Homo sapiens: one gene and its partners. The protein of the gene in region 2 interacts with the protein of the main gene of each other region in a pairwise test. Each region holds a gene or a part of one and is shown on either strand. Other genes may lie near its edges.

The links.
Region 1: the proteins of MORN3 (region 2) and CDCA7L interact in binary tests that used the Homo sapiens proteins (3 or more experiments, as listed by UniProt).
Region 3: the proteins of MORN3 (region 2) and FARS2 interact in binary tests that used the Homo sapiens proteins (3 or more experiments, as listed by UniProt).

What each region holds. Positions count from the first base shown.
Region 1 is NC_000007.14:21,907,792-21,911,441, forward strand, and holds part of CDCA7L (cell division cycle-associated 7-like protein), read right to left. Parts: intron 717-3,650; coding exon 339-716; intron 1-338. UniProt on the Homo sapiens protein: Plays a role in transcriptional regulation as a repressor that inhibits monoamine oxidase A (MAOA) activity and gene expression by binding to the promoter.
Region 2 is NC_000012.12:121,667,520-121,671,269, reverse strand, and holds the start of MORN3 (MORN repeat-containing protein 3), read left to right. Parts: upstream 1-1,615; 5' UTR 1,616-1,786; coding exon 1,787-1,931; intron 1,932-3,750. UniProt on the Homo sapiens protein: Assembles a suppression complex (suppresome) by tethering SIRT1 and MDM2 to regulate composite modifications of p53/TP53.
Region 3 is NC_000006.12:5,264,440-5,268,089, forward strand, and holds part of FARS2 (phenylalanine--tRNA ligase, mitochondrial), read left to right. Parts: intron 1-550; exon of another isoform or gene 551-639; intron 640-3,002; exon of another isoform or gene 3,003-3,084; intron 3,085-3,650. UniProt on the Homo sapiens protein: Is responsible for the charging of tRNA(Phe) with phenylalanine in mitochondrial translation.

The DNA of each region.
Region 1 (3,650 bases), on a different chromosome or scaffold from region 2:
TTACTCTGCTGGGAACGGGCTAGTTGTTCAGCCCCTCTCATCCCCAACACAACTATATACTTAGAACTTAGCTTGGTCAACAGTAAGCAGCATTATGGCACCATGTAGGGGCTAAAAATGGTGCTGGGGAATCTCTTTCTGTTCCCAAACCAGAGCTGATCATGTAATAGTTGCTCTGGGTTCTGGAAAAGTAAAAGGATACACAATACCCAGAGTATATTTTCTTGACAGAAGCCAAAGCAACAGCAGCAGCTGTAGGAGCAAAGTGGTTCTGGGAGCCCAGCAACTGCTGCCAGAGCCTGGTGCCAACTCCCAGGACGCCCTCCGTGAAGCCTCACCATGGCTTTGTTCTCCTTGATGTTCATGGTCCTTTTCAGCAAAGCATCTGAACTCTCCTGGCTCTCATCCCGAGAGTCATCCTCAGACTCAGAGGTAGAATCTTCCCTTTGTATCACCTGTCTACAGTCTTTCTTTCTTTCAAGAATTGTTTTTTTCTCATTCTGTAAGCGTGCGCTAGAAAACAACTGCTCGGAAGAACTGTTTTTATCTGGTTTGTTGGCCAGCTTCTTGGTGGGGAACTGAAAGGCTACTCGAAGACCAATACTACTTCTTCTAGACCTGCTTCTTCTAGGGGTAGCCTTATCTTCTTCTTCATCTTCCTCTTCCTCGCTCACCAAAGATGCTTTGCCATCATCACTCAAATCTGACTCCACGACCTAATAAAATAAGAGCAAGAAAAAGCACAAAGACACTGTTACAGACCCACAAAAAAGACATGCATTTAAAACAACTGACAGCATTATGAGAAAAAACATGAAAAATGAAAAGCTTCCCCTTCATATTATGAGTTCCCTCTGAATTTCCTTTAAATGTGCAAGAAATTGGTTGATGAATAAAATCAGAGAGCAGGCAACCTACTACTGAACTGTGCACCATCATACCCGCGACAGAAATGGGTTCCATTCAGAGCATGAGGGCTGTAAGCAAAACACTGACAGGGTGGGTTCCTCCACCGTGGGACAACCAGGGAGCACCAGCAAGAGGAGAGACAGTCACAGAAAAGGAGAGACAGCAGCATGACAGATGTGATCTTCAGACAGGAAAGGACGCAACGGGGGAAAAATGCTGACTGGTCTCCTCTAAATAGCAGGAACCAGACTCCTGAATAACAGGGCGGGAGAGCTGACTGCACCTCAGGGCAGTGACCCAGGACAGGCAGATGACCTGCCACTGCGTCCTCAGTCAAGGGGCACCTTTCCCTTCTCTGGAACCCTCAGAGCCATGAGGTGAAACCAGGTCACAAAGCTCTACAGGTTGTAGCAAAACACCACTCAGTCAACTCAAGAAATCCTCACCCGACATTTTCAAATTCCACATGGCAGAGGTCTCCAGCATTCAAACATTGCTCTGTTTTACAAGTGAGAACACAGTAAATATGGAAGGCAGTAACAGGGATACATCACCTAGGTGACAGCTTGGATGTGACGGGACTCTTAGCAGTGGTACAGAGACAGGTTTAAGTATGTAAGATCTAGGACGTCTTCTGGGCATCCTTCCATGACCAGAAGCTAGAAAACTTTGGGAACCATTATCTGGGAATTCTGAAAATCTACCAAGAACACGGAATGGCACCGATACGGACCCAGGATCAGTTCAGGGACTCTGCTTCCTCCCCGGTGACGACCATCAACCCCAAACTCTCGTTGGACTAAAGTTAGAAATAAGACACAGGGAGAAAAAAAACGCAGATAACTGCCAACCCTGGTATATCCACACCAAGCCAAGTGAGGAGTAAGACTATATGGCACTGATTTATCTATTTTTTAATACCCTGAACTTCCCATATTAATAGCTTCAGAATTCAAAATGGTGTACTGCAAAGGAACCCAATTTCAGGGGACACTGTCAGGGAAGAACTTCAGTTTTGATCCATTTATCTACCATCCTCATCATCGACAGGCCTCTCTTTACCAGATGTGGAACAGCTCACTACAGAGGCCTGAAGGAAGGAAAGAACAAATGGTACACAGCAGCCCAGAATCAGACCCAAGAGAAGAGCACAAGTGTAGTACATGGATGTGGTTATTTCGCATCCGGCCAGCAGACCCCTGGAAACCAAGTTACAGCAATGTCCCATTATCAAGAAAGATAGGTTCGCCAGTTCCCACAGGGGTGGGCAGGAGGGTGGGCTGGGAGGCAACAATGCTTTTCTTCTCACTGGATTCTAAAATAAAATTTGCAAGGGCCTGTGCTGAACTGTAAGCTATATCATGATCTATGTAACTACATCACACAGTCCATAGACTTGGGGGCAGGTGGGAGGGAAGACTTCTGGGGTAATTCACTTTCTCTCACTAGAAATGCAAATGCTTCGAATAACCAGACATCACTTCACTAAAGAACAGAAAATAAGTACATTGCTAACTGATGATGCCCATTAGGGTTTTAGAAGCATCTTAATATCGTGCTGGCAAGAAGCTAGGGACTTGCTGGCCAGAACTGATGGAACTGCCACACAAACAGCTTCTGCAAAGAAAGCCAAAGGAGACCTGGGGCCTCCAGGCTGGCACAGCTCTATGTTGCTACTCATAGCAAAAAATCACTATCAAACGAAGCAGCCTACCATGCGGGCTTTTATGCTCTACATTCTCTCCTAGGACAAGTGAGGGACATGGCAGGCTAGGAGTCACGGCTTATTTATACCTCTACACAGTCTCTGCCAAAAGTTAGTCTTTAGCAGCTTCTGGCTGTGAAGAGGCGTAAACTCTACGTTCCATCTTCATACTGAAGAAGATAGTAGCATGTTTATTTTTTGCATAAATGTATGCTATTTTTAGCAGAAAACATTTCTGCACTTAAATCCGAAGGCTGTGCCTTAAAGTTACCTTCAGGTTCAAACACGAGTGGGCAGTAAACTAGCCTAACTGTGCAGGATAAAACAAACAAATAACTAACAAGTCTGTTCATAGGAAGTGCTGAGAGTAGACTTCCCTCCAGAATCCAGGCAGGCCTGGGTCATCTTTAACACTAAAAAGCATGACAAATCCAAATCCACAATGCATGGGGAACACCAAGTTTGTACCACAGCCAAATTTTTGCCAAATTAACTTCAAACCAAAAACTGTCACTTCACACACAGTAAGAAAGTATCTCAAGAAAGTTGTCATCTAAGATAAACTTTTAGATAAAAGAGGTTTAAGGAACTCTTGAGATAATTTTTTTTTTTTTTTTTTTTTTTTTTTTTTTTTTTTTTTTTGAGATGGAGTCTCGCTCTGTCACCCAGGCTGGAGTGCAGTGGCTCAATCTCAGCTCACTGCAACCTCTGCCTCCCGGCTTCAAGAAATCCTCCTGCCTCCGCCTCCCGAGTAGCTTGGATTACAGGTGCCCGCCACCACGCCCGGCTAATTTTTGTATTTTGAGGAGAGATGGGGTTTCACCATATCGGTGAGGCTGGTCTTGAACTCCTGACCTCAGGTCCACCCGCCTCGGCCTCCCAAAGTGCTGGGATTACAGGTATGAGCCACCGTGCCTGGCCAAGAGAGATAAATTCTTTGAGAAGGACAATAAAGGACGCCTGGGACACATCCCCAAAAACCCCCTAAGGCACGAGGAGAAGATGAATGGATTTTCTCTAAGAGAATAATGGACTG
Region 2 (3,750 bases):
ACGCCCGGCTAATCTTTTGTATTTTTAGTAGAGACGGGGTTTCACCATGTTAGTCAGGATGGTCTCAATCTCCTGACCTCGTGATCCACCCGCCTCGGCCTCCCAAAGTGCTGGGATTACAGGCGTGAGCCACCGCGCCCAGTCTTTTTTTTTTTTTGAGACAGAGTCTCACTCTGTCTCGCCCAGGCTGGAGTGCAGTGGTGCAATCTCGGCTCACTGCAGCCTTCTCCTCCCTGGTTCAAGCGATTCTCCTGCCTCAGCCTCCCGAGTAGCTGGGATTACAGGCGCCCGCCACCACACCCAGCTAATTTTTGTATTTTTAGTACAGACAGGGTTTCGCCATGTTGGCCAGGCTGGTGTTGAACTCCTGACCTCGGGTGATCCATCCGCCTCGGCCTCCCAAAGTGCTGGGGATTACAGGCGTGAGCCACTGAGCCCGGCCTATTTTATTATTATTTTTTAAGACTGAGTCTTGCTCTGTCTCCCAACCTGTAGTGCAATGGTGCAATCTCGGCTCACTGCAACCTCCGCCTCCTGGATTCAAGCTGTTCTCATGCCTCAGCCTCCTGAGTAGCTGGGATTACAGGCGCGTACCACCAGGCCTGGCTAATTTTTGTATTTTTAGTAGAGACAAGGGTTCACCATGTTGACTAGGCTGGTCTCGAACTCCTGACCTCAGGTGATCCACCCGCCTCGGCCTCCCAAAGTGCTGGGATTACAGGCATGAGCCACTGCGCCTGGCCCTCCTTTTTTCAATATATGTATTGATTTTTTTAAAGTGAGTTAACTTATTTTTATTTTCTTCTTGAGAAAAGTTCTCACTCTGTCATCCAAGCTGGCGTGCAGCGGCATGATCTCGGCTTACTGCAACCTCTGCCAAGTGAGTTAATTTACATATAAAGATTAATAGTACATGTGATATTTGGAAATGGGAGAAGAAAAAATCCCAACGGCATAGAATTTAGGACCTGAGATTGTTTCCCCACTCCCAGCTTTTGCTCTGCCTATTTTCTTTGCCTGGAATTATTTTTCCCTACTCCTAGGTGTGATTGTCAAAATATGTAACCCATATTTTGGGTTCATATTTTGGATTCATATTTGGCTCAGTGGCTCATGCCTGTAATCCCAGCACTTGGAGAGGCTGAGGTGGATGGATCATTTGAGATCAGGAAATTGAGACCAACCTGCCCAGCATGGTGAAACCCCCGTCTCTACTAAAAATACAAAAATTAGCCAGGCGTGGTGGTGGGCGCCTGTAATACCAGCTACTTAGGAGGCTGAGGCACGAGAATCACTTGAACCCAGGAGGCAGAGGTTGTAGTAAGCCGAGATGGTGCCACTGCACTCCAGCCTGGGCAACAAAGCAAGATTCCATCTCTAAATAAATAAATAAATACATAAATAAATAAAAATATTTAGAAGACATAAAAAAAAAAATATATATATATATATATATGTATATATGACCGCCACCCCCTCCCTGGGGGCAGCTTCTCCCTGATGCCATCACAAACCCTCCTGCTCTACTGGTTTCCCTAGATTCCCAAGTAATTGTGCCATCAGACCCCCTGGGAGGGGGCCCCAGGAGAGGCAAGGGAGGGGCCAACCAAAGGTCAGTCCAGCACTAAAGGATCCCCACTAAGGGCTGTTCACCTGCCCCAGGGACTCAGAACACACATGACTCTCCCCACTTGAGCTCAGGATCCCGGCATTACACGGGGCGCGCTGAGCCCCAGATGTCCCTAACCCCTTTCCAGCACCCTCCAGCCTTGCAGAAGCAGCCACCATGCCAGTCTCTAAGTGCCCAAAAAAGTCGGAGTCCCTGTGGAAGGGGTGGGACCGGAAGGCCCAGAGGAACGGCCTGCGGAGCCAGGTATACGCTGTGAATGGCGACTACTATGTGGGCGAGTGGAAGGACAACGTGAAACACGGTGAGTGGGACTCCGGGACGGGCGGCCGGAGTGGGGTCAGAGCCACAGTGGGCAACAGGGCCAGGAAGGCAGAGTGCAGAGCTCACTGGGGACATGAGATGTGTCCCCAAGGCTCCCCCAGGGTGAGCGCTGGCCCAGGCCAGCTGGGGGCCTTCACATGCTGGGGCTTCTGAACAAACTCAGCCCTGACTTCAACTGAGTGAGGGTCTCAGGACCAGCAGTGGACAGAGGGTCTTGAGAAACTGGCCTGCCCCCGGGGCTCTGGGACCTAGGGGGCTCAGTTCCTGCCTTCTGAGACCTGGGTTAAGCACTGGGCTGGCTGGCAACAAGAAAAGCCACGCCCCTGAAGCCAGCTTGCAGTGGGGTTCTGGGCTTCGCATTCAGCTGTGATGCTCTGCAGAGGGCTGAGCGCCAGGCACAAGGGAGGACCCCCTACTCCATCCCACAAGGAGGAGCTGGGGCTCCAAGTCTGACCAGCAGGGGGCAAAGGGGTCCTGTTGATACAAACTAAATCCTGACTGGGGAAAAAAATAAAGAAAAAAGAGCTTTTATTTTAAAATGTGGCACTGCTGCTCACTCCAGTCTTGCAATTCCAGACTCTGTACTCTTTTTTTTTGAGGGGACAAGGTCTTGCTCTGTCTCAAAAAAACAGGCTGGAGTGCAGTGGTGCCTTCATAGCTCACTGCAGCCTCGAGATCCTGGGCTCAAGCAATCCTCCTGTCCAAGCCTCCTGAATTGCTGGGATTACAAGTGGGAGTCACTGTGCCTGGCTAGATTCTGTGCTCTTTTTATTTTTTTAGACGGAGTTTCACTCTTGTTGCCCACGCTGGAGTGCAATGGCACGATCTTGGCTCACCGCAACCTCTACCTCCCGAGTTCAGGCGATTCTCCTGCCTCAGCCTCCAGAGTAGCTGGGATTACAGGCATGTGCCACCACGCCTGGCTACTTTTGTATTTTTAGTAAGACGGGGTTTCTCCGTGTTGGTCAGGCTGGTCTTGAACTCCCGACCTCGAGTGATCCGCCCGCCTCGGCCTCCCAAAGTGCTGGGATTACAGGCGTTTAGCCACTGCGCCCAGCCCAATTCTGTGCTCTTAACCATCCTGCTCTCCTGCCTTGCTGGGTTAAGTGCTTTGCAGTCAAATAAACCTGGGTTAGGATCCCAGTTCCAGGCTGGGTGTGGTGGCTCACATCTGTAATCCCAGCACTTTGGGAGGCCGAGGCAGGCAGATCACCTGAGGTCAGGAGTTCAAGACCACCTTGGCCAATATGGTGAAATCCCATCTCTACTAAAAAAATACAAAAATGGGCCAGGTGGGGCTGGGCGTGGTGGATCACGCCTGTAATCCCAGCACTTTGGGAAGCCGAGGCGGGCGGATCATGAGGTCAGGAGATTGAGACCATCCTGGCTAACACAGTGAAACCCTGTCTCTACTAAAAATACAAAAAATTAGCTGGCTGTGGTAGTGGGCGCCTGTAGTCCCAGCTACTCGGGAGGCTGAGGCAGGAGAATGGCGTGAACCCAGGAGGCGGAGCTTGCAGTGAACCGAGATCTCGCCACTGCACTCCAGCCTGGGCGACAGAGCAAGACTCCGTCTCCAAAAAAAAAAGAAAAAAAAAAAGACTTGGAGGAGAGGGAGTAACTGAGTGGATGTTTGCAGGAACTAGCATAGAAGGTGGCAGGACCAGCTGGAGCAGAGAATATACCTGGGGTGTTCAAGGAACAGCCAGGAGGACGGTGTGGGTGAAACAGAGTGAGGAAGAGGAGGAGGTCAGAGAGGTTGCAGGCCGGGGACAGTGGCTCACACCTGTAATCCCAGC
Region 3 (3,650 bases), on a different chromosome or scaffold from region 2:
GCATTTATTGAACACTTCCTAAGTACTATAGGTTATGGTTTTTCTTTTCTTTTTTCTTTTTTTTTTTTTTTGAGACAGAGTTTCACTCTTGTTTCTCAGGCTGGAGTGCAATGGTGCAATCTCGTCCGGCTAATTTTTTGTATTTTTAGTAGAGATGGAGTTTCACCATGTTGTCCAGGCTTTTCTTGAACTCCTGACCTCAGGTGATCCAGCTGCCTTGGCCTCCCAAAGTGTGGGGATTACAGGCGTGAGCCACCGCGCCCGGCCCATAAGTACCATATATTATATAAGATGATATAGTCACAGTGATGAGAGCTTCCCCACCCCTAAGAAACTTGTAGGTGACTAGATAAGCGAAACAATAATTTATTTTATAGAGACAGGGTCTCTGTTTACTAAGCTGGAGTGCAGTAGTGCTATCATATCTCGTTGTAACTTCAAACTCCCGTGCTGAAGTGATTTTCCTGCCTCAGCCTCCTGAGTAGCTAGGCCTATAGGCTCATGCCACCATGCCTGGCAGATTTTTAAGTGTTTTTTTTTTTTTTTGTAGAGATGAGATTTCACTATGATGTCCAGGGTGGTCTCAAACTCCTCAGTGCCTCTCCTGTCTTGGCTTCCCAAAGAGCTCAGATTATAGCTGTGAGTCGTGGCACTTGGCCAATAATTTCTTTTTGACAGTTGCTGCGATATGAGTAATATTAGTAAACGCTAAAGGAATAGGGAAGAGGAATATTGAACCAGGAGTTTCACCTATGGGAAGGCTTTCCATCGTAGAAGGTGTTTCCAGAATGAGAAGTAAAAGCCAGATGAGGAATGTGGTTAAAGATTGCAGTGTATATCCAAGCATGGAGGAAGAAGGGTGCTTGATCTATTTAGAGAACTCTTAAGTGTTTTAGAATGGTAGGAGGTGGGAAGGGAGGGACCACTGAAGTGTTTAGCCCTGTACTAGCTTTATTTTAGTGATGTTTTCTCTCTGTCTGGAATAAATCATTTCTTCCCTTATGCATTGGCTGAGTTATATAAGTAGAACTTAACAGCTGAGCTGTTGAAATGGAGATTATTTATTCAGGTACTGATAACCTTTTGTTTCAAATCATGACTTTGAATCCTATATTCCAGAGGCACTGAAATGTTATTTATTTACCTGTGCATTCAAGAGATAGCTGGCAGCCTAGCAATTTAAGTTACTGTTGTTGTGGTAACTTGAGGGCGATATATAAATCAAACACTGATCCTGTTTTCCAGAAGTTTATACTTTAAATGCATTTGTATATGATTAAAATAAGGTATTAGGTTGGTGAAAGTAGCTGCAGTTTTGACCGTTACTTTTAAGGGTGAAAACAGCAATAACTTTTCTACCATCCTGTACAAAGGGCTGCTGAAGCGTTGTGGGGTCTCAGTGCAAGGAGAGGTCACTTCATCCCTGATGCTTGGGCCACACCTCAGACCAACAGCAGTGCTAAGGCCCAGGCTTCAGATAATTTTGTTTAATTTTTTTTTAAAATTCTCTCCATGATTGGGTAGAGCCAGGGCTGAGAAACATTGACCTGAAGGAATTAGGGGGCTTCATGGAGGAGGTAGTGTTTGTGTTGGGCTTGAGAGGATTTAAGTTTCTCCTGGGCCTTGAAAGGAATTGAAGGATTTAAATGTTTGAATGTGGTGGTAAGATGGCTACTGTAGGTGGAAGATGACTCACCCTTTACCTTGAAAGGATGAAGGAGAAACCCTGATTGAGGTCTAAGAAAAAACAATCATGACCTGCGGAAGGCTTTGGCCAGAGCTGTAGAGTGCATGAGGGTGAGAACGGGGAGATCCCGTGAAAAGGTAATACATCGGCTTTCATATGTTTTAGGCATGAGATGAGCTGAATCCTGATATGATTTGAGTTAGTCTTCCCATGACCTGATGGAAGAGCTGTTATCTCCATTTAAGAAAAGTGAAGCTGCCCAGGTGTGGTGGCTCACATCTGTAATCCCAGCACTGTGGGAGGCTGAGGCAGGAGGATCACTTGAGCTTGGGAGTTTGAGGCCAGCCTGGGTAACATAGCGAGACCCCATCTCAATAAAATAGAATAAAAAAAAGAAAAAAAAATGAAGCTGAGAGTTTATTTAGCCAGGGTCACACAGCTGGAAAGTAGCTAGTGTGGACCTTGGCCTGAGATGTGATCTGTCTAGCTATGATACAACACTGCTTCACAGATAAAGTACCAGCTTCAGGAATTGGAAGGTTATTGATTTTTCTTGGATAACATGGGTACATTTCAGTCATATTTGAATTTTAATTTAGTTGGATTCTCACTTATTTGTAAAGCTAACCGGTTTGTATTGGAAATATTATAAATATTCTGGGAATCTCAAATGTTGATTTTATACTAGCTTTTTAGTTATTTAAGATAAATTTACATTTTATTCTATTAACATCTCTTTGAAAAGACGTAGTGCTTTTTTAGGTTGTCTATTTATGTGTGTATGTGAGACATTTCCTCTTGGGGGATTCTCTGAGACTCACATTTCTGTAGAAGCTTTTTTCAGATATACTTATGAAAATCTGTTCTCTGTTTTGAGAAATCTTGAAAGCTATGATATGTTGCAACTAGACACTCTAGCTTCATTGATTGGAGGCTAAGGGTTCCCGTATTTGTGGGCAGTAACAACAAAATTGACAATTTATTTTGTGTAAAGTATTTCAAATGTCAGTTATTTCTAGAGGTTTTTTTTCTTAAAAAAAAAAAACTCATTAATTCTTTTCATTGTAAAGGAAAGAAACCATCTTTTCATGCTACAAACCCCGACCACCATGAGAATTCTTTTACAGTGTGATTTGTTGTAATCTGTTATAGATCACTTTCATTCTTTCTTTCTTGCTGCATATGAGGGACCAGTATTTTAGGAATAATGTTTTCATATTGTCTGGATATTTTAGGATGATTTGTTAATCAAACTAGCTACAGCTTATTGTAATGATAGCTATTATTTATTTAGAGTTTGTTTTCTCTCTTCTAGGAGCTTTGCCATGAAAAGAACAGTCCAGGCCAGGCGTGGTGGCTCACACCTGTAATCCCAGCACTTTGGGAGGCCCAGGCAGGTGAATCACGAGGTCAGGAGATGGAGACCATCCTGGCTAACACAGTGAAAACCCGTCTCTACTAAAAAAATACAAAAAAAATTAGCCGGATGTGGTGGTGGGTGCCTGTAGTCCCAGCTACTCGAGAGGCTGAGGCAGGAGAATGGCATGAAGTTGGGAGGTGGAGCTTGTAGTGAGCTGAGATCGCACCACTGCACTCCAGCTTGGGAGACACAGCGAGACTGTCTCAAAAAAAAAAAAAAAAAAATCGCCACACTGTCTTCCACAATGGTTGAACTAGTTTACACTCCCACCAACAGTGTAAAAGTATTCCTGTTTCTCCACATCCTCTCCAGCACCTTTTGTTTCCTGACTTTTTAATGATCGCCATTCTAACTGGTGTGAGATGGTATCTCATTGTGGTTTTGATTTGCATTTCTCTGATGGCCAGTGATGATGAGCATTTTTTCATGTGTTTTTTGGCTGCATAAATGTCTTCTTTTGAGAAGTGTCTGTTCATATCCTTCGCCCACTTTTTGATGGGGTTGTTTGATTTTTTTCTTGTAAATTTGTTTAAGTTCTTTGTA